Linked DNA regions of Homo sapiens: region 1 is linked to region 2. A link means that fine-mapping ties the variant in region 2 to the expression of a gene that starts in the linked region. Tissue or cell type: whole blood. Region 2 holds a variant in brackets; the other region holds the start of a gene. Each region is shown on its reference strand, or each on the opposite one. Region 1 holds the start of SPAG8 (sperm associated antigen 8). Region 2 has its middle 12 kb from the start of ATF3.

Region 1 (8,439 bases), not on the chromosome of region 2:
CCTTCTCCAGGGCAACTCTAGGGTCTCCCAGTGTCCCAGAGGCACCACAGAGAACTGCAGCCTCTGGGGCCCAGAGAAGAGGCCATTCTACATTTCCTCACAATTAGGGGGGCCATCTGTTCCTCCAAGGGAAGGAATGCAATCTGGACTGCTAGGATCCCTGGGGAAAATCACAGAATCAAATGTCTGCCCTTTAGAGGAGAAAGGATTTTCTAACAATAATATAGCTATACAAAAGAGATTGTTATATCTCTAGAAGCAAAGTTCCCCAACAGTGGTTATATGCCCCATGATAACCATTCACCTAAAACTAATTCAACTAATAGTCAACAATAGAGTTAGGATTACTATGATAAACTCATTGAAGGAAATAATAAGCAGCCAATACAAACTATATTTACGTAGACTGTAAAAATATGAAAAATTGATTACACATGGGTTAGTATCATATGCAATACATATTACATATTATGAAAAAAAGACAGGAAACACCAAATGTTATTCATTCAACAATTACTGACCACCTATATGTATCAGGTCATGTGTTTAAAAAAAAAAAAAAGAAAAAAAGAAAAACCAAAGAAACAGTGGTAACTTGTCCTATGTGATATCAGACTAAAACTTACCTAGCGTCTGAGAATATTAGTATTTTGTGACCCCACGTTTCTTATGTCAAAAATATATATTCCAGCAGTGCAAACCTGACTTATTGGTGCCTCATACCTGTAATCCCAGCACCTTGGGAGGCCGAGGCAGGAGGATCACGAGGTCAGGAGATCGAGACCATCCTGGCTAACACGGTGAAACCCCGTCTCTAATAAAAATACAAAAAATTAGCCGGGCGTGGTGGCGGGTGCCTGTAGTCCCAGCTACTCGGGAGGCTGAGGCAGGAGAATGGCGTGAACTCGGGAGGCGGAGCTTGCAGTGAGCCGAGATCGCGCCACTGCACTCCAGCCTGGGCGACAGAGCGAGACTCCGTCTCAAAAAAAAAAAAAAAGAAAAAAGAAAAAAAGAAAAAAAAAGAAAACACCAGGCACCGAGCTAACTGTATCACACACCTTTTCCGATTAGAAAAGAACAATGAATACATACTCCTTTGCTTATTATAATTCTTGTGCGGCAAATATAGGACACTCTTATCTCCTCCTGCTCAAAAAAAAAAAATGCAAAAACCACAGACTTTTTAATCTATGGAGTGAATGCGTTAACAAGAACATAGAATTAAGGAAGAATTTCCCTTAGATAAGTACATTAAAATCTCCAAAATGCTCAAGGGACTGAAACTGCCCTTGTGGAGAAAATGCTGCGCATCAGCCCCGCCAGTTAAAACAAACAAACAAACACAAAAAAACACACCTCATCCCCGTTCACCTTTAGCCCCACCCCGGGTGGTTCTTGGAGCCAATAAGCGCCGGATGCCCTCAGAGCCCCGCCCTCCTCCTGGCCAAAGCGGTGAGAGGGTCTAAAACAGCCCTTTCTGCAGCAGGTGGCGGAGCCCCGCCCCCTTCTCCCCGCGCACCAATAGGAACCAGACCTGAAGAGGACGAACCAAGAACGAAAAGAACCACCCACTCGGGAGCCGCAACCTAGAAGCCAGAGTTGTGTATCAGATTCAACTAGGAGAAAATCCCACCTCCAGGCTCCATTAATCCTTCCAATGGAGTGGAAGTTTCTCTCACAGAGAAACTAGTAAGGGGATCCAATGGGAAAAGAACGTTCACACGGACTAGAAGACGAAACCAATGGAATGGAAAATTGTCCTCGCGTTGGTAGAAGCAGCCAATGAGATGAAAAGAGCCCGCCTCCAAAGTGGCTGCAGAGGCAATGGGGTGAATCGTGCTCAGAGGCGCGCTCCAATGGGGTAGCAGGGCTCGCCCGGCCGCCACTACCCCGCTTCCCCGCGCCCGGAGTCCCCACCCACGGCCGGCCGCGGAGCCGAGTGCTGACCCGGGTGAGAGGTTCCCGCGGCTCAGGGAAGATGGCGGCAGCCGTGGTGCTGGCTGCTGGGTTGCGCGCGGCGCGCAGAGCCGTGGCGGCCACGGGGGTGCGCGGGGGGCAGGTGAGAAGTGGCGCGGGAGCGAGTAGGGGGTCCTGCGGGCTCCGAAGCCATCCGGGGCCAGGGGGTCCCGAAGGCGCGCAGAGCCGCGCAGAGCTCCTGCCTGTGGCCTCTGCCCCTCCGAGGCACAAGCTCCGGGGCTGTGTGGTGAGGTCGAACTGGTGGCTCCGGAGAACGAGCTGGTGCTGATTCCCGCCCTGCGCAGGCCGGGGCGCCGAGGTCGGGACAGGGTCAGTGCAGCGGCTGCCGCCTTCTTTCCACTGCCTGCAGCCCAGCTGGCCCGATGCCCCCTGCAGGAAATGAGCTTTCTCTTCTTGGAGCCAGTGCTCTGCCCTCCTCAGGCTTCTGGCCTCCTAATGAGCACTAGTGTTAACCTCTCTTCTGCACTTGCCAGAAGCGGCTCGGAGGTCAGAGAATTCATTCCGTCCCGTTCTCCCCCAACGTGATGCAATGACATCAGCCTTCTCTGAATCCCTTACCCGAAGTTCCCTGGGGCTAGGGGAGCAGAGGTCACTTAGCTGAACTCTTACCTCCACTCATTCAAGGGACAAGAGTTAAAATTCACAGAGTCACATGTGACACCCAGATGAGGGGTCAACTAGTGTCAAACAGGGCGATTGCATTAAAACTTAAATAAAACAGGCGACAAGGCTTAAAGATCAGAAAACAAGTAACGGAAATAAGTGGAAATGTACTAACAAGGTGAGAGTGGAAAGAGATTCAAGCCATCGCAAGAGATTATGGAAACCATCCCTTTATTTTATATTAGAAGCTGAGAGAAGGAATTTATCTGAGGTAATTCAGTGGTATGGTAAGGTAGGAACTGAGACCAAAATCCCCAGTCTCTCATTCTAGATCCTTTCCCTAAACAGTGCTATATTTCGTGGACACATGAGCAGGAATCAATTGCACTGCTGAATCCTGATAATAATACCGCCTGTTATCTAACCAGGTCCAGCACCTTCTGGCCCTACCCTTTGCTGCTGGTGCTCTGAAATTCAGGAACTTTCCTCCTGGGTGGGAACGATGAATAGGTTATTAGAAGGACGAAATTAACAACTATCAGAGCCCAGCTTCTGCCAGCTCCCTCCTTTGAATATGGTCGATCCACCTTCAGGTCCGAGGAGCTGCAGGTGTGACTGATGGGAATGAAGTGGCCAAGGCCCAGCAGGCAACTCCTGGGGGAGCAGCCCCAACCATCTTCTCCCGGATCCTGGACAAGAGCCTCCCAGCTGACATTCTCTATGAGGACCAGCAGGTGGGGTGCTCTTAGGACCTATCCCCTTAGGAATGTTGTAGATACCATCCAACCTGTTGAAGTAACGTGGCCTCTGGCCTGTCACTTCCCCCAGTGTCTTGTGTTCCGTGATGTGGCCCCTCAGGCTCCTGTGCACTTCCTGGTCATTCCTAAGAAGCCCATTCCTCGGATTAGCCAGGCTGAAGAAGAAGACCAGCAGGTGGGAAGAACAGGGCCAGGGTTTGGCTGGGAGGAGCCCCTGGACCCAGCTAGAGGTCTTGCTCCCTATGAATGAAGCCACCTATGTCCCTCCGCTCTCTCTATAGCTTCTAGGACACCTACTCCTTGTGGCCAAGCAGACAGCAAAGGCTGAGGGCCTGGGAGATGGATACCGACTTGGTGAGTGACTTTTGGCCCTTGGTCCCTCACCTATGAATTCTCATTCCTACTTCTCAATATGATCTTCATTCTTCGACCTCTGCCATGATCCTGACTCCCTAACCCCAAGCTCAATTTCAGTGATCAACGATGGGAAGCTGGGTGCACAATCTGTGTATCATCTGCACATTCATGTACTTGGGGGCCGGCAGCTCCAGTGGCCTCCAGGTTGAACCTGCCAACTGATTAAAGGACACCAGACTCTGGATGCTTGGATGGAAAGGGAAAAATGGACCCTGTGATGCTAATAAAACTGTTCTCCCTTAATTATGCTCTCCTGTCTTTAATATAAAATTTTATACCACAAAGGGGAAAGAAAACTGATTCAGGGCTATGATGCCCCTTGACTGGTCTGAGTGAAAGACACTGAGGAGGTCCAACCTGTGGTTAAATGTTGCCTGCAGATATGTAAGTCTTCTTGACAAGTGGTCCACCCTAGGTCAAGCTTCTAGAAAAGTAACAGTAGGAATGAGCCTAAATGAGTAGGAAGAAACTGAAAGCCAATCCTGGCCCTTCTTCAGAGGTCAAACCAGGTTCTAAGGGCGCTTAGGAGGAGGGTGGTCAATATGAGGGTCTTTTATTAGAGGAGGAGTAATCACACCCAAACAAAAGCGGCTGCCTTTTCACTATTCTACGTCTCACCATTTTGCTCAAGCTAGTTTGTTTATTTTCATCCTTAACATTTGTTAAAGACCCCACTCACTTTTGAGAATGAACTAAGCAAACTAAGGGGAAGCTACTTGCCTCTCAGCAAACACCAAGTAGGCTGTAATCTAATGCCACAACCCTGTGCCTGTTTCCAACATATCCCCATAAAGCATCATCTTAGAAAACCGCACGCAAAGACTGTTTGGACGTGGAGGGCGAGGTCTTAAGCCAGCGGAACCCTAAAACCCCGTCTGAGGCGGAATGCCGCCGGGACCGGAAAGCGGACCTCCCTAACAGCACTAGGCTGAAGACTTCCGCCCCGCAGAGGACTTGCCTCCACCGCCACCTGCAAGTCCGCCCAGCTGTACTTCTGCGCAGGCTCCAGGAGTTGTTTGCTGTCTCTATGGCAACCCAGTAGCTGGAGTCTGAAGATGGAGACCAACGAGTCTACGGAGGGATCGCGGTCGCGGTCGCGGTGAGAGCCGCAGCTCTGGCTGCAGGCATAAGGGGACGAGGAAGGTCAGCTGACTTCCTCTGCTGCGCTTTTGACAGCCATGTCGTGTTTGCTTTCTTTCAGATCTTTAGACATACAGCCCAGCTCCGAAGGACTGGGGCCCACTTCGGAACCGTTTCCTTCTTCAGATGACAGTCCCAGGTCGGCCCTGGCAGCTGCAACCGCAGCAGCTGCAGCGGCTGCATCAGCTGCTGCAGCTACTGCAGCCTTCACCACTGCCAAAGCAGCTGCATTATCTACAAAGACCCCAGCGCCCTGTTCTGAGTTCATGGAGCCGTCCTCTGACCCCAGCCTTCTTGGGGAGCCCTGTGCGGGACCCGGCTTTACCCACAATATAGCCCATGGGAGTCTTGGCTTTGAGCCCGTCTATGTTTCCTGTATTGCTCAGGACACTTGCACTACAACTGACCATAGTTCTAATCCTGGCCCTGTTCCAGGCTCTAGCTCTGGGCCTGTTCTTGGTTCCAGCTCAGGTGCTGGCCATGGCTCTGGCTCTGGCTCTGGTCCTGGCTGTGGCTCTGTCCCTGGCTCTGGCTCTGGTCCTGGTCCTGGCTCTGGTCCTGGCTCTGGTCCTGGTCATGGCTCTGGCTCTCATCCTGGTCCTGCCTCTGGGCCTGGTCCAGACACTGGCCCTGACTCTGAGCTCAGCCCCTGTATTCCTCCAGGGTTCAGAAACCTGGTGGCAGATCGGGTCCCTAACTATACCTCCTGGAGTCAGCACTGCCCCTGGGAGCCCCAGAAACAACCACCTTGGGAATTTTTGCAAGTCTTAGAACCGGGTGCCCGAGGACTATGGAAACCCCCAGACATTAAAGGGAAGCTTATGGTTTGCTATGAAACTTTGCCGCGGGGCCAGTGCCTCCTCTACAACTGGGAGGAAGAGGTATTAAAGTTTTGGCCTGCTCCCTTTTCTTGAAGGCTGCCCTCAGTTTCTTAGGGGAGGCAGTAGTTTACATGAGGGTGGGTACCAGAAGGGATATTATAGTCATTCAACTTGGGATCCACAGAGAGCCACCAACCACCTGGATCAAGTCCCAAGCATGCAGGATGGCTCTGAGAGTTTTTTCTTCCGACACGGACACCGGGGACTGCTGACTATGCAACTAAAGTCACCCATGCCCTCCAGCACCACCCAGAAAGACTCGTACCAGCCACCAGGAAACGTCTATTGGCCACTTCGAGGTGTGAAATGTGAGAGGGTAGGCCAGAACGAGCCCATTACTCAGAGGGAAGAAGAGGAAGGAATTTCTGGTGGGGCTGTGGATTCTCCAGTGGATATAAGGGCGGAACCCCAAGGTTCTTCTTCCTTTTCTCAAGTTAGTTTCTTCTGGGCCTCCTTCTTAACCAGACCCCACCTTGCCCACCCCCCAACTCTCTCACAGGGAAGCGTGAAGCCATGCTGGAGATGCTCCTGCAGCATCAGATCTGGTAAGGGATTGGGTAAAGGGGAAGAGGGATGGGGAGGAGAAAAATTGGGTGAGAATGGCCTTGACACCCCTCGGGCTACATAGTAAAGAGGTGCAGGCAGAACAGGAACCCACAAGGAAGCTCTTCGAGGTTGAGTCTGTGACACACCATGACTACCGAATGGAGCTGGCACAAGCAGGGACTCCTGCCCCAACAAAGGTGAGAACCCACCCCCCATCCCCCGCCACTTGCACCAGCTGGGCTCTGACAGGCTGTGGCCAAGTACCAAGCCCAGAGGTTGAGAGAGAGGGCTGAAGGCCAGGAGTTACTCAGTACCCTCCCTCACAGCCTCACGACTACCGCCAGGAGCAACCTGAGACCTTCTGGATACAGAGGGCACCACAGCTGCCGGTGTGTGAGGGTGACTAGGTGTTGGGGGCAGAGCGGGGCAGGAAAGGTAGGGCAGAGTTGTTTTGTTCTGGCTTGGGGAGAGTGGGATCCATCCTCATCCTGGCACTCCTCCAGGGTGTCAGTAACATCAGGACATTGGACACACCATTCCGGAAGAACTGCAGCTTCTCAACACCAGTACCCTTGTCTCTGGGGAAACTTTTGCCCTATGAACCTGAGAATTACCCCTACCAATTGGGAGAAATATCTTCCCTTCCCTGTCCCGGAGGAAGGCTGGGTGGTGGAGGGGGGAGAATGACTCCTTTCTGAGGGGTGAGGAGGGAAGTGGGGTATGGAATATGGAATCTATTTCTGTCTGCACTAGAGAGGTCGGGAGGAAGTTAATTCTCACTGTACTTGAAGAGGCTTTACATAAAGGGTTCTCTCTCATCCCAAGACTGCTAATTTAGTGATTCTGTGAGTCACTGTGTGCATACCCCATAACCTTTCCTTGGGATTGCCCCTATCCCACACTATGACATCAGAACTTTTTTTATTATTGTTTTATATTTGACCAAAATATTCTGGTTTAGATACAGATATTTACAGAAAGTAGGGAGGAAGGGGACCAAGCCAGAGAGGGACAGGTATATGTACAGGGCTGAGCTGCAGAGGGCTACAACTTCCATATAAGGTAGGTTTTTTTGTGGCTGTTTTCCATTGCATATGAAAATGTCCATTTCTGGTGTGTGCAGACATGGTGGCCATTGCCCACCCAGGTACCAGCAGCAGAAGACTATCTGACTTGGAAAGAATGGGGGTTTACAGGAGTCCAGGAGGTCCTTTCCGCTCTCCTAAGAGCCAGTATGTTCGCATCTTTCCTTTTCCCTGGAAGTGGGAGAGTGGACATGATTCAGATGCTTCGATGTTAGTCCCTTTGTCTCCCTCTCTTTCCCTATGATTCCCATAATCACTTTCACCCTCCCTTTCCATGCCCCCCTCCCCATGGCCTGCCATCACCTTCATTTCCACATCCCCCCGAAGCTCTAGCTGGAAGCATCCTAGCTCATCTAGGGCATCCTTGGTGGTAGAGGAGACATGGATCTTCAGCGCTGGGGTGGGTGGAATGGGGAGGATGGTGGAATGAGGAATCAAAGAAAAGGCAATCAAATAATTGGTGATACTGTATAGCACCGTGCCCGACCAACCATCCCTGGGAAGCTCCCAATGCATATCTATTAGGACCAAAATATGCCCAACCTCCCAATGCATATCTATTAGAACCAAAATATGCCCGAGGATGCGACACTAAGGAACTGTGGTCTCTCAGATTAAGAAATTGGAGGGATTATGAAAAGAAGAAAAGGGCAAGATAAATTGAGGCCAACAGTGGGGTTGAGGGCTAATGTCTTACCTTGACCATTAGACTCCATTCGAGAAGCAGTGTTCACTGTGTCTCCAAAAAGACAATAACGGGGCATCTTCAGGCCAACAACCCCAGCACAGACTGGCCCTTTGAGAAGAAACAGGTTGGGAGAGTCTGGGAAAGGTGGAGACTAGGGCTGGAGTGAGAGTCAGCCTTACCAGTATGGACCCCTATGCGTAGCCTCAGCTGGTCATGGGGTCGGTGGCGGATGCGAAAGGAAGAAACTGCATCTAGTAATGCTAGGGCCATACGAGCAATTTCTGGTGCATGGCGTTGACCATTTCGGCCTGGGAGGCCAGATACCACCATGTAAGCATCCCCAA
Region 2 (11,280 bases):
GTTCCCTCCCTTCTTTCTAAGTGTAAAATGTTACTATGTAGCATTCTGGGTGTTCCGTGCTATGTACTAAGCCCTTTACGTACAGTTAATGCTTTTAATTATTGTAACCACCCTTTGATGGACCGTAAACATCTCCATTTTATAGATGAGGAAACTGAGGCACAGACAGGGTAAATAACTTGCCAGAAGTTACCTAGCTAGTGAGCAGTAGAGCAGGACTCAACCCAGGCAGTCTGACTCCCAAGTCTGAGTGCGCAACCACGATACCTACCACCTCCTGGCAAGTGCTCACGGGAAACTTGGGATGCTCTGATGCAGTTCAGGGCCCTCCTTTGATGGATGAGGAAACTGAGCTTACAGAGAAAAATGTGGCTCTACATCGTGTCAGAATCATAAATTCTCATACCGAAAGGAACCTTAGCAGCCATTGAGACTCGTGAACCCCTTTTTTGCCCTCCACCTGGGGAGATGCTGCTTTTGCTAAGAATAGGGCCAAGGTGAAAAAAGCTGATTGTAAGAAGAGCACCCTAAAACATTTTAGGGGCACCTTAGCTAGTGGCTGGCAAGGCATACTATCCTTGGGGCTGAAAAGGGGATGGTGTAGGGTAGAAGCCAGGGATGGCAGAAAGAACCTGTGGTCAGATAGAACTGAGTTCAAATCCTCTTTCTGCCACTGCTTATTTAGTTTTAAGAAGGTCTTATAACCTCAGTTTCTCCTGTAAAATGAGGATAATGTCTGTTTCCTCATTTATATCTGTTTCCTTAATCATGGGATTAAGGAACAATACACCTTTATTATACATTGTATGCCTGTATCAAAATATCTCACATGCCCAATAAATATATACACCTACTATATACCCCCCAAAATTAAAAAACAATTCACCCTCAAAAGTGACATTCAATAAATATTGCTTTTTTCCCTCTTCACGCCTTACCCTTGAAGCTACCAAGTCATATGGAAACCTGAGACACCAAAGTGTCTAGACCCTCATGGAAAGTTCCATCTCTCAGGCTGGCTTACTGACTGATTTTAAAACAAATTTAAAAAAACTTGATGTGTGGCCAGGTCCTATTTAGTAATTACTATTTACTGAGCACATACTACATGCCAGGCACAATAGTAAGCACTTTTAAAAATACCCAGTATCTTATTTCATCCTTATAATAACCTGTGAGGTAGGTTTTTTATCTCGGTTTTACAGATGAGGAAACCAAAGCACAGAAAGGTTAAGAAAATTGCTCATAGGTACTTGATTTAAACACAAATCTAACTTATTTCAAAACTTACATTAAGCGATACTGTCCTCAAAATCTTAGAGAGCATGATGTGTGTTTACTTTTCTTTAGCCTTCCCTACCTTGTTGAAAATGAGCACCCTCGCTTTACCAAAGTCTTGCTGAATGCACAGATGCTTCTAGAGTTGACCTTACCAGAAAATTCTTACTCCTGATGTCCCAGAGGATACATGCTTAATAAATTCCAGATCCCTGTGCCCTCAGGGATACTTTCCCCCCTGCCAAATTTGCAATTATTTCATAATTTGCTTTAACCACAAACATAAGCCCTGTTATTGACTGAGTAAACTGAGTAGGGCTTTTTGGACTTTTATTCTTTTCCCAAAATACGATGAACTTGAATCATCAGATGATGAACTTGTACTTGAAACTAGAGTGGCTGAGGGCAAAGTGAGTCACTCCAGTGAGTTTATGCCTATCAATCAATGCATCAAATTGTGTCCTATTACCGGACACTGCTCTCAGCAGTCTACTTAGACACCTTGGGGTTACAAGGACAATATAAGAGCATTTCTTGACCTGAAGAGTTAAAAATCTTGTTTAGGTGGCAAATTAATATACATGAAGCAGAAGTCCAGCAATATAGTAGGTATTTTATATATATACTATATATATATGTATGTATGTTTAGTCCTCCAACATTTTAACGAGCACCAACTATATGCTGGATACCGTGTCAGAAGCTGCAGGTACACAGTGATGCATATCTGCCTTCCAGGTGCTCACAGCCCATGGGGAGACAGACTTGATAACAAATAGTTACAGCCTGATGCAGCAAGGGCTAAAGTGGGGCAGGACGGCTCTGCCCAGGAAAGCTGGCAAGAGCTGATGGCTGAGGTGACTGTCGAGCTGGATGTTGAGCCGACCGTTTTCTAGGCAAGGGAAGTGGACAGGCATTCCAGGCATAGAGAAAGTCATATGAAGAGGCTGTGAGTGCCAGGAAGGGGCTGTGCCCTGCTCATCTCTGTCCTTATTTCCAGCTCTTTGCACAGTTCCAGGCACATGCCAGACCCACAGTGAATACGCATTCAGTGGATGAAAATACGGAATGGAGAGAACATGCACAGTGTTTGGAGAACAGTGAGGCAATTGCTGAGCAGGAGTATTTGTGGAAGGGAGGAGACGTTAGGGAAGCAAGTCTGGGAAGAACAGACTGTGATAGCCTTTGAAGATGTAATAATCAGTTTGGACTCTGTCCCCAGGGACAAAGGGAGGGGGTCTGTCAGTGGCAGATGGACACAAACAGATGTTTTTCAGGAAGACTGCTGGTAGAGGGCTGAGGGTGGGCTGGATGGGAGAGGAAGATGCCCATGGAGGGCCATCAGGAGGCTGCAACACTGGTCAGGTGAGGCCATCGGAGGCCAGATGAACTGTGAAGATGGTGGTATCCCCACTCTCGTATGTTGTTCACTCAAAATAAAAATTATTCACAAAACACAATGCTCTTATGTGTACTGAAATTAAAATAGCCTTTTTCCCCTGGATCTTTTCATTGCAAAATTCAGGATTGCTTTATTAAAACTGAGCTTCCCTCACTTTCGGGGGCCCTCCCCATTACAGGTACCCTAAGCAGGCATCTGATCAGTCTTGGGAGTACAGCAGTGTTGCCTCACCTGAGGCAGGGCTGGTAAGGAGAACAGGAGGGGATGATTTTGGGAAACTTCTAGGCAGACATCTTTGGATTTTGGCAGAAGCTTGGTGTTAGGATAGATGGAGAGGGGAGGAATGCCCCTATCTCAGATGTTATAGAGCATAGCATTGGGGTGGGAAGGAACTGATTGGGTATTGTAGGCAGTAGAAGTGGGAAAAGACTAATAAGGGCATTTCGGGACAAAATGCTTAGCAGTGGGATGTCAAAGAAGGGAATGGCCCCTAGCCATCAGCATGTTGGGGATATCAAAGTAATGGAAAGACTCAGAGGAGAGAGGAGAGAGAGGGAGGAAGAAGAGCCAGGTTGGGGCCTAAGGCATAATGTAGGAGTCAGTGTGGATTATTGGAAATTTACGGATAATTACCAAGTACCATGAAAATCTACCTCACTGGTTCACAGCTGTAATTTATGCTTTCCCTCAGGCTTTGGATAACAATATTTATTCCAGCTAGCTTTCTGATAAAGTGATTAATGAAGACCAGAAATGGTCCCTCAAGAACCAGGAAAAGCCAATGATCCTCAGCCTGACATAGTTGAGAACTGACAAACTAGACACTTATTTAAACAAGTCTTTTTTCAGTGCTATGCCACTATTTTAAAAGATATTCACAAAGAGATTACAACTTAGGGAATGCTGTAGAGATAATGTGGGTTTTAAATGCAAGATACATATCATCTCACCCCAGTTAAAATGGTTTTATCCAAAAGACAGACAATAACAAATGCTGGTGAGGATGTGCAGAAAAGTTAACCCTCGTACACTGTTGGTGAGAATGTAAATTAGTACAGCCATTATGGAAAACAGTTTGGAGGCTCCTCAAAAAACCAAAAGTAGAGCTACCATATGATCCAGCAATCCTACTGCTGAGTATATACCCAAAAGAAAGGAAATGAGTATATCAAGGAGATATCTGCACTCCCATGTTTGTTGCAGCTCTGTTCACAGTAGCCAAGATTTGGAGGCAACCTAAGTGTCCATCAACAGATGAATGCATAGAGAAAATGTGGTACTTATACACAGTGGAGTACTATTCAGTTATAAAAAAGAATGAGATACTGTCATTTGCAACAACATGGATGAAACTGAAGGTCTTTATGTTAGGTGAAATAAGCCAGGCACAGAAAGACAAACATCATATGTTCTCACGTATTTGCAGGATCTACAAATAAAACAATTGAACCCATGGACACAAAGAGTAGAAGGATGGTTACCAGAGGCTGGGAAGGGTAATGGGGGTGGGGGAAGGTGAGGATGGTTAATGGGTTACAAAAAAATAGTTAGAATGAATAAGACCTACTATTGATAGCACCGCAAGGTGACTGTAGTCAAAATAATTTGCTTGTACATTTAGAAATAACTAGAAGAGTATAATTGGATTGAGATACAAAGGATAAATGCTTAAGGGGATGGATACCCCATTTCCCAAGATGTGATTATTCCATCTTGCATGCCTGTATCAAAGTATCTCATGTACCCCATAAACATACACACTTACTATGTACCCATAAAAGTTAAAAATAAATAAATTTTAAAAAGTAAGATATATATCAACACAGAACAATCATAACTCAATAAAAGCTATAAATAAACAACAAAATAC[G/A]TAGAATAAGGGAAATAAAGAAATTTCCATAAAATATTAAAAGTATTTAGTTGTTGGAAGTATGGGTGGGTAACTTTTTTTCTCTTCTACTTATATATTTCTGAATTATCCCATTGTTCTATAGTGCGGATGTGTTAATTCTTAAAAGATGAAAGTATAAACTTTCATGAAGGCAAAAACTAATATTACTGTGTGTCTTTCGAAGAGTGTATTTGCCTACTTTTTTCCAGTCCTGCCATTAAGGGGTACCTAAGACTGAGATTCCATCCAAATCAAATCCTGGCTTAATTATGTATCAAGCACTCCTTGAATGCCTACCATGTGCCAGGGGCTGAGATGGAATCCAGGAAAGAATAAAATTGTTTCTAAGGTAGGAGATGGAATGATGAATTAATCTTCAATAAGCTCAGTTTTTGTCCTGCTAAACCTCATAGTGACTTATATAAGCGAAACGGAAAGAAATCCAAAGTGTACTCATCTACACTGAGAACACTGTGGTAAGTGGAAACAACACTCGGGCCAAGGTTCAAGTTCTGGTTCTGCACTAGCTGAGAAACCTGAGGTCCCTCTCTGAGGGTCAAATTCCTCCTGTGTTAGTCAAGGAGGCTGTGCTAAGGGAAGGGCTCCAGAAGGCAGCAAGAGTCTCAACCTCTGCCACTTACTGGCCTGGAACATTGAACATAAAGCTAATACGACCCACCTTGCAGGGTTGATATGGGGCAGGGGGTGAAAAGATAGATGATTGCTAGATAGATGAATGGATGGATAGCTAGCTAGATAGAGAGATAGATGATAGATAGATAGATAGATAGATAGATAGATAAATAGATGTAACTCAGTACCCAGAATATAACAACACATTAGTAAATGGGAGCTTCTATTATTATAAATTCTGAAATTCCTTACAGTTCTTCAATTTTGTGATTATAAGCGCTGTGTCTACAGTCGATGATGAAGATGATGATCATGATGGTGATATTATTTTCTAAGGGCCCCTTTTTTCTTGTCGTCATTCCCTATTGACCAAGTTTCTACAGAAGAGACACATACCTAGTCACATAAAAGTGAGTCACCGAGGAGGCCCCATATTGTCTCTGTCTGTGTTGGACATGCCTTGCTGGACAAACCACCTCTTTCTCTCAATTTCCAACACTTAATGTCTATTTTCTTATCTGAAGATTGCCCCCGCATCTTCCTCACATAAAAGTGCTGTGAGGAATAAATTCATACACTCATTCCTCGTGTATGTATTGAGTGCCTACTGTATGCCTGGCATTGTTCAAGAGCTGGACATCCAAGAATGAACAAGACAGAAAGAGGCTCCACACTGGGCACTTAGCAGATACCCCAACATTAATTTCTCCTCTTAAGCTTAATTTAAATGGAAATAAGACAGCAGTGGGAATTCAAAGAGATTCTCAATTCAGAAGAACCAGTGTTATCTCTTCAGCATTCCTTTAAAGAATTTGGGAACAAAACACTGACTGTTAACTAGCTCACCATTCATGTGCCAGAGGGAAGCCACCTTCTTTTTCCCCCTTGGCATTGGCCTTGAAAGGGGAGCCAGTGGGTGAGAGGGGACATTGTCCTTTCTTTCTGGCATATAGAGCCTTAGCTTTAACTTTCACACCCCCCACAGCACTCTTCTGCCTTGGCTCTGTTACATGTCCTGACATGTAGAACCAAAGGAAACACAAAGTGAAAATGAAACGAATGTTCCACCTGAGTCACTGTCTGTGTTTCTCTTTTATCACCAAAGCAATGAACTCCCACACAACTGAGGCTTGTTCTATTTAGGTTGTAAAACGTCATCTTTGTAATTAAAGCACACTATTATTGTTATAAAGTAAACAATTGGAAAACATGTTCTTAGAAACATCTCTCTGATTCATAAATATTTGGATGGTGAAATCACAGAAGTGGAATGCTAACCTTGCTAACACGCTAGTGATAAAGATCAGTAGGCACTTATGTTACACAGGGGAAAGTTAGCCTTAGTGTGCAGTAGAAAAGTGAGGTGGAAAATAGGAGTTATCTTGTAACGGCCATTTGGAATCATGGAGGTTTAAAAAATATAAACTATTTTTTCTCATGTTAAATTTCACTTCACTTGTGTTTATTAATTCATTGAAGGAATATTAATTCATCGAAGGAATATTTTGTTCCCACTCCACTGGGGCCACACCCCACAGTCACTTTAAGCCCCAACCACTTGAGGCGCTAGTGGTTTCATTTTCTCATCAAGCCTCTCACGTCTAACATTCTTGCCTATGATGGAATTTCCTCCTCCTCCTGCCACCCAAACCTTTCCATTTACAAAACTGCTGTTTCATTATATCTTTCAAAATCCAGTTTCAAAGTCACTTCCTTGTGTAGGTAATATAATGTTAGTCACCTCTAGGACTAGCCATGTAATTAGTGGGGCCTATTACCAAACGCAAATGTGGAGCCCCTTGTTCAGAAATTATTAAGAATGTTGAGTCAGTGACAGCAGAGCATTAAGCCAATGTGAAACTTGTTAAGGGTGGGACTGAACAGGTCATCCGGCTTATGAGGCTAGCCGTGGACGCACCTTTTCTGTGTTCCCATAGTTCTTAGAGGATATTTTTGTTTCTTGGCCATTCAGCATCTATCCATCCCAATTCGAGTAATGGTTTCCCAGTTTTCGTCCGAGAAAGCCACTCCCCGCACATTTCCGGTCCCTGTGCATTGGGTGACCAGTCAGAGCAAACCAGGCCAGGGACCACTGTGGTTGGTCCAGGAAGGGGCTCAGGATCCATGTAGAGCCACTGAGCTGCGGGAGCACCGGGCTGGGGCTGCTGGAGGCAGCTCACTAGCTGGACTTGAAGGCAGGGGGCTGTAGCCTGGGGCTGCTGAGGTTGCCATGGGCAACTGGAGAAAAAGGTTAGAGCCAAGAGGCTCTATATCAAGCTGGGTGGCAGCCACACTTTCTGCAGAGTTTTCAGCTATATGAACCGGCAAATCTCCACTTTTTGTTAAGCCATTTTGTACTGTTTTTTCTAACGAGCCAAAGAGTCCTAGGGGCTACACATCTATTTGGTCTTTATATACATATTTTTATACATGTGTTTCCCTACAGTTTTATGAACTCCTTGGGAGTGGGTATCCTATTTTGCTCATCTTACCATCCTCAGTGGTTGAGATATTATTAAAATATCCTTTTACTTTTTAAATAAATATAACTGTAATAGTAGATGGCAAAACAATAATTGACAACCCTGCAATTATCCTCAGTTTTTGTTGTGAAACTTAACCAGTCTTTAGAATCGGAATGGCTGTGAGCCCCTGCACATGTATTCAGTTCAATACATGCTAAGTCCAGGTGGCCAGGCAATCAGCCAATGGGTTAATTCTGCTCACAGGTGCTGGCAACACTCTCTTCTTTCCCCTGACCTGTAGGCCTGTAAGGGGCCCAGTAGCTTCAGCCCACAAAGCACATTCACACCCATTAGCTCCTCTGCATCTCCCACAACCCTAAAAAGGGATCAGGCGGGGCGCTTCATCTCCATTTTACAGACTGGAGATTGAAATAAAGAGTCTGGGCAGTTTCAGCAACATGCTCTGTTTCTGTCTATAGACCCAGGCTCTCTTGTACCCCTGCCACCCTCATCTGAGACTCTTCTGCCCTGTGTCTCTGCTCTGTCTTCTCCCTCCTTGCTCTTTGACCCTTCCACCCTAATAAGGCAAAATGTTTAAGAGGTAGAGTGACTTTTTAAATCTGACACCAGTAGGACTCTGTTCATCTATAAAGGCACAAAATAAGCACAATGCCAACTCTGGAAAATTGTTAGGTTTTTTGTTTTCTTTTTTGTTTGTTTGTTTCATTCATAGTCTCTGAATATTTACTTTTTAGAAATAAGTTATTTGTATTTAATTTTAAAAGAAAAATAATGAATCCCAGCTAGAAAGTTGCAATAAAACATATTCTAGTCCTTGCCAGTCTTCCATTAAATTCATGAAGCATGTAGACTACCTGGAATGTGTCTTAGCCTCATGCATCATTTCCCCAGGCCTCATCTGCAGGGGCTGCTGGCCAGCTGCTCGTCAGCTCCACCGAGCCCCGAACTGGAGGAAACAGAATTTAACTTCACAGGGAGGGCTAGACCAGACAGAGGGAAGACTTATGCTCTGGGAGTGCTTAGACATTGGAACAGGCTACCAAGGCAGGTGGGTGATGATTCCTTCCAGGTGGATGTGTGTGACTCTGAGTGAGCACCCATGTGCAGGCAACTCAAGGACTAATTGGAAATAGGGTGCTATCTTACATGAAATCTGAGAGCTCAAGAATTCCAGGAGTGGCTACTCAACATCACAGATTGAACAGGGACTTTGGGGAGTTTTAAAGATCTACAGAAAAATAAAGACAGCCCTAGGGCTAAGAATGGTGACTGATATAAATAGAGACACAGACACATAGGTATGCTTACAATCATTTACAAAGTCTTAAGAACACTTTTTTTTTTTTTTTTTTTTTTTTTAAAGAGACAGGGTCTCTCTCTATCATCCAGGCTGGAGTGCATTAGGGCAATCATAGCTCACTGCAGCCTTGATCCCCTGGGCTCAAGTGATCCTCTAGCCTCAGCCTCCCAAATAGCTGGGACTACAGGCACATGCCACCATGCCTGGCTAATTTTTTAATTTTCTTTTTTTTAGTACAGATGATCTCACTTTGGTGCCCAGGCTGGTCTTGAATGCCTGGGCTCAAGCCACCCTCCCACTTCAGCCTCTCAAAGTGCTATGGTTACAGGTATGAGCCACCACACCCAAGAACACTTTTTTTTTTTATACTTTAAGTTTTAGGGTACATGTGCACAATGTGCAGTTTTGCTACATATGTATACATGTACCATGTTGATGTGCTGCACCCATTAACTCGTCATTTAGCATTAGGTATATCTCCTAATGCTATCCCTACCCCCTCCCCCCACCCCACAACAGTCTCCGGTGTGTGATGTTCCCCTTCCTGTGTCCATGTGTTCTCACTGTTCAATTCCCACCTATGAGTGAGAACATGCGGTGTTTGGTTTTTCATCCTTGTGATAGTTTGCTGAGAATGATGGTTTGCAGTTTCATCCATGTCCCTACAAAGGACATGAACTCTTCATTTTTTTATGGCTGCATAGTATTCCATGGTGTATATGGGCCACATTTTCTTAATCCAGTCTATCACTGTTGGACATTTGGGTTGGTTCCAAGTCTTTGCTATTGTGAATAGTGCCACAATAAACATACATGTGCATGTGTCTTTATAGCAGCATGATTTATATTCCTTTGGGTATATACCCAGTAATGGGATGGCTGGGTCAAATGGTATTTCTAGTTCTAGAACCCTGAGGAATTGCCACTCTTACCAAGAACACTTATCTTTAAATGCCATGTTATCAATGGATGTATCGGGCTGGCAGCACCCAAACCCACAGATCTGTTTTACTATCTCAAGAAGTGAGACCATCAGATACAAGGGCCTCTTGCTGTGATGTAATAGAAAGCACACAGCCCACCAAAGTAGTTGAACCTGAATGCAATCCGGCCCCTAGATCTGACCATTTGTTTTTGTGAAATTCAGAGGATAGAGGAAATGGTTAAACAATGCTGAGGATGTAATCAGCCAAATCCAGAATGAGGGAAATTCTACAGGACAAATTAACTCATTTCTTCAACAAATAAATAGCATGAAAAATAAGGAGAAAGAATATGGTAGGTTAAAATAGACTTAAGAGACATATCAACCAAATATAATGTGTGGACCTTGTTAGGATCCTGATTCTGTCTAACTGTAAAATGACATTTAAAGACATACTTTTGGAAACGTGAACATAGATTAGCTAATTCGATGATATTAGAAAATTATTATTAAATTTTTTAGATATGTTGTGATTATTATCTTAAAAGCCCTTATCAGTCTTTAAAAGGAATAAAATACTTAGATGAACGTTGAAAACATGAGTGAAATAAACCAGATTTTTAAAAATGCTGTATGATTTCACTTAGATGAAGTGTCTGGAATGGTCAAATTCAGAGACAGAAAGTAGAATAGTGGTTACTAGGGGCTAGGTTGAGGGAGAAATGAGGAGTTATTGTTTAATGGGTACAGAGTTTCAGTTTATGATGCAAATGTTCTGGAGACAGATGGTGGTGATGGTTGCACACAGTGTGAAGGTACTTAATGCCACTGAATTGTACACTTGCAAATGGTTAAAATAGAACATTTTATGTTATGTACTTTGTACCGCAATTTTAAAAGAAGTCCTTATCTGTTAGAAACATACTCTGCGATGCCTATGATTTGCTTTAAAATACTCCCACCCGGCGGAGGTTGCAGTGATCCGAGATCGCTCCATTGCACTCCACCCTGGGCAGCAGAATGAAACCCTTTCTCAAAAAATAAATAAATAAATAAAAATTTAAAAAATGCCCATCCTACCCTACCACCCCATAAAAGAAAAGTGTGCGGAAGGGGAGATGAGATAAGATTGGCAAAGTATTGATAATCGTTAAAGCTGGATTTCAGGTATATGAGGATTTATATGTGTACGTTTGCAAATTCCCATGATTAAAAAGTTTAAAAATGACTGCAGAATGCCTTACTATCAAGGATAAATGAATACAGTGCAAATCTGCCCACAAACGTAGCTGAGCCCAGCTGATTGGAAGAGTGCACACAATGGACTGGGGCGGGGGGGATGGAGAGCATTCCCCATGGCCAATC

Evidence for each region.
Region 1: SPAG8 starts here. The variant in region 2 is fine-mapped to the expression of SPAG8 in whole blood (TOPMed, PIP above 0.99).

Annotation. Positions count from the first base shown.
Region 1 is chr9:35,808,519-35,816,957 of GRCh38, reverse strand. It overlaps SPAG8 (sperm associated antigen 8), which reads left to right and starts at 4,696. Exons shown (of 7, transcript NM_001039592.2): 1 at 4,696-4,854; 2 at 4,957-5,776; 3 at 5,901-6,075; 4 at 6,276-6,321; 5 at 6,405-6,519; 6 at 6,649-6,711; 7 at 6,826-7,163. The coding sequence starts at 4,811. The coding sequence ends at 7,020. NPR2 (natriuretic peptide receptor 2) reads right to left here. Exons shown (of 22, transcript NM_003995.4): 19 at 8,275-8,439; 20 at 8,105-8,203; 21 at 7,711-7,802; 22 at 7,227-7,578. The coding sequence ends at 7,513. HINT2 (histidine triad nucleotide binding protein 2) reads left to right here and starts at 1,916. Exons shown (of 5, transcript NM_032593.3): 1 at 1,916-2,059; 2 at 3,174-3,314; 3 at 3,409-3,513; 4 at 3,620-3,692; 5 at 3,813-3,998. The coding sequence starts at 1,979. The coding sequence ends at 3,904. FAM221B (family with sequence similarity 221 member B) reads left to right here. Exons shown (of 7, transcript NM_001012446.4): 7 at 1-567. RefSeq lists silencers at 1,274-1,453, 1,784-2,103 and enhancers at 1,544-1,723, 4,878-4,927, 4,622-5,178.
Region 2 is chr1:212,591,513-212,602,792 of GRCh38, reverse strand. It overlaps a transcript of ATF3 not described here. Among named protein-coding and RNA genes, the nearest start is that of ATF3, 12 kb to the left of the region's middle. RefSeq lists enhancers at 6,152-6,446, 6,070-6,549, 5,711-6,910. The variant G/A (reference allele first, on the strand shown) is at 4,551.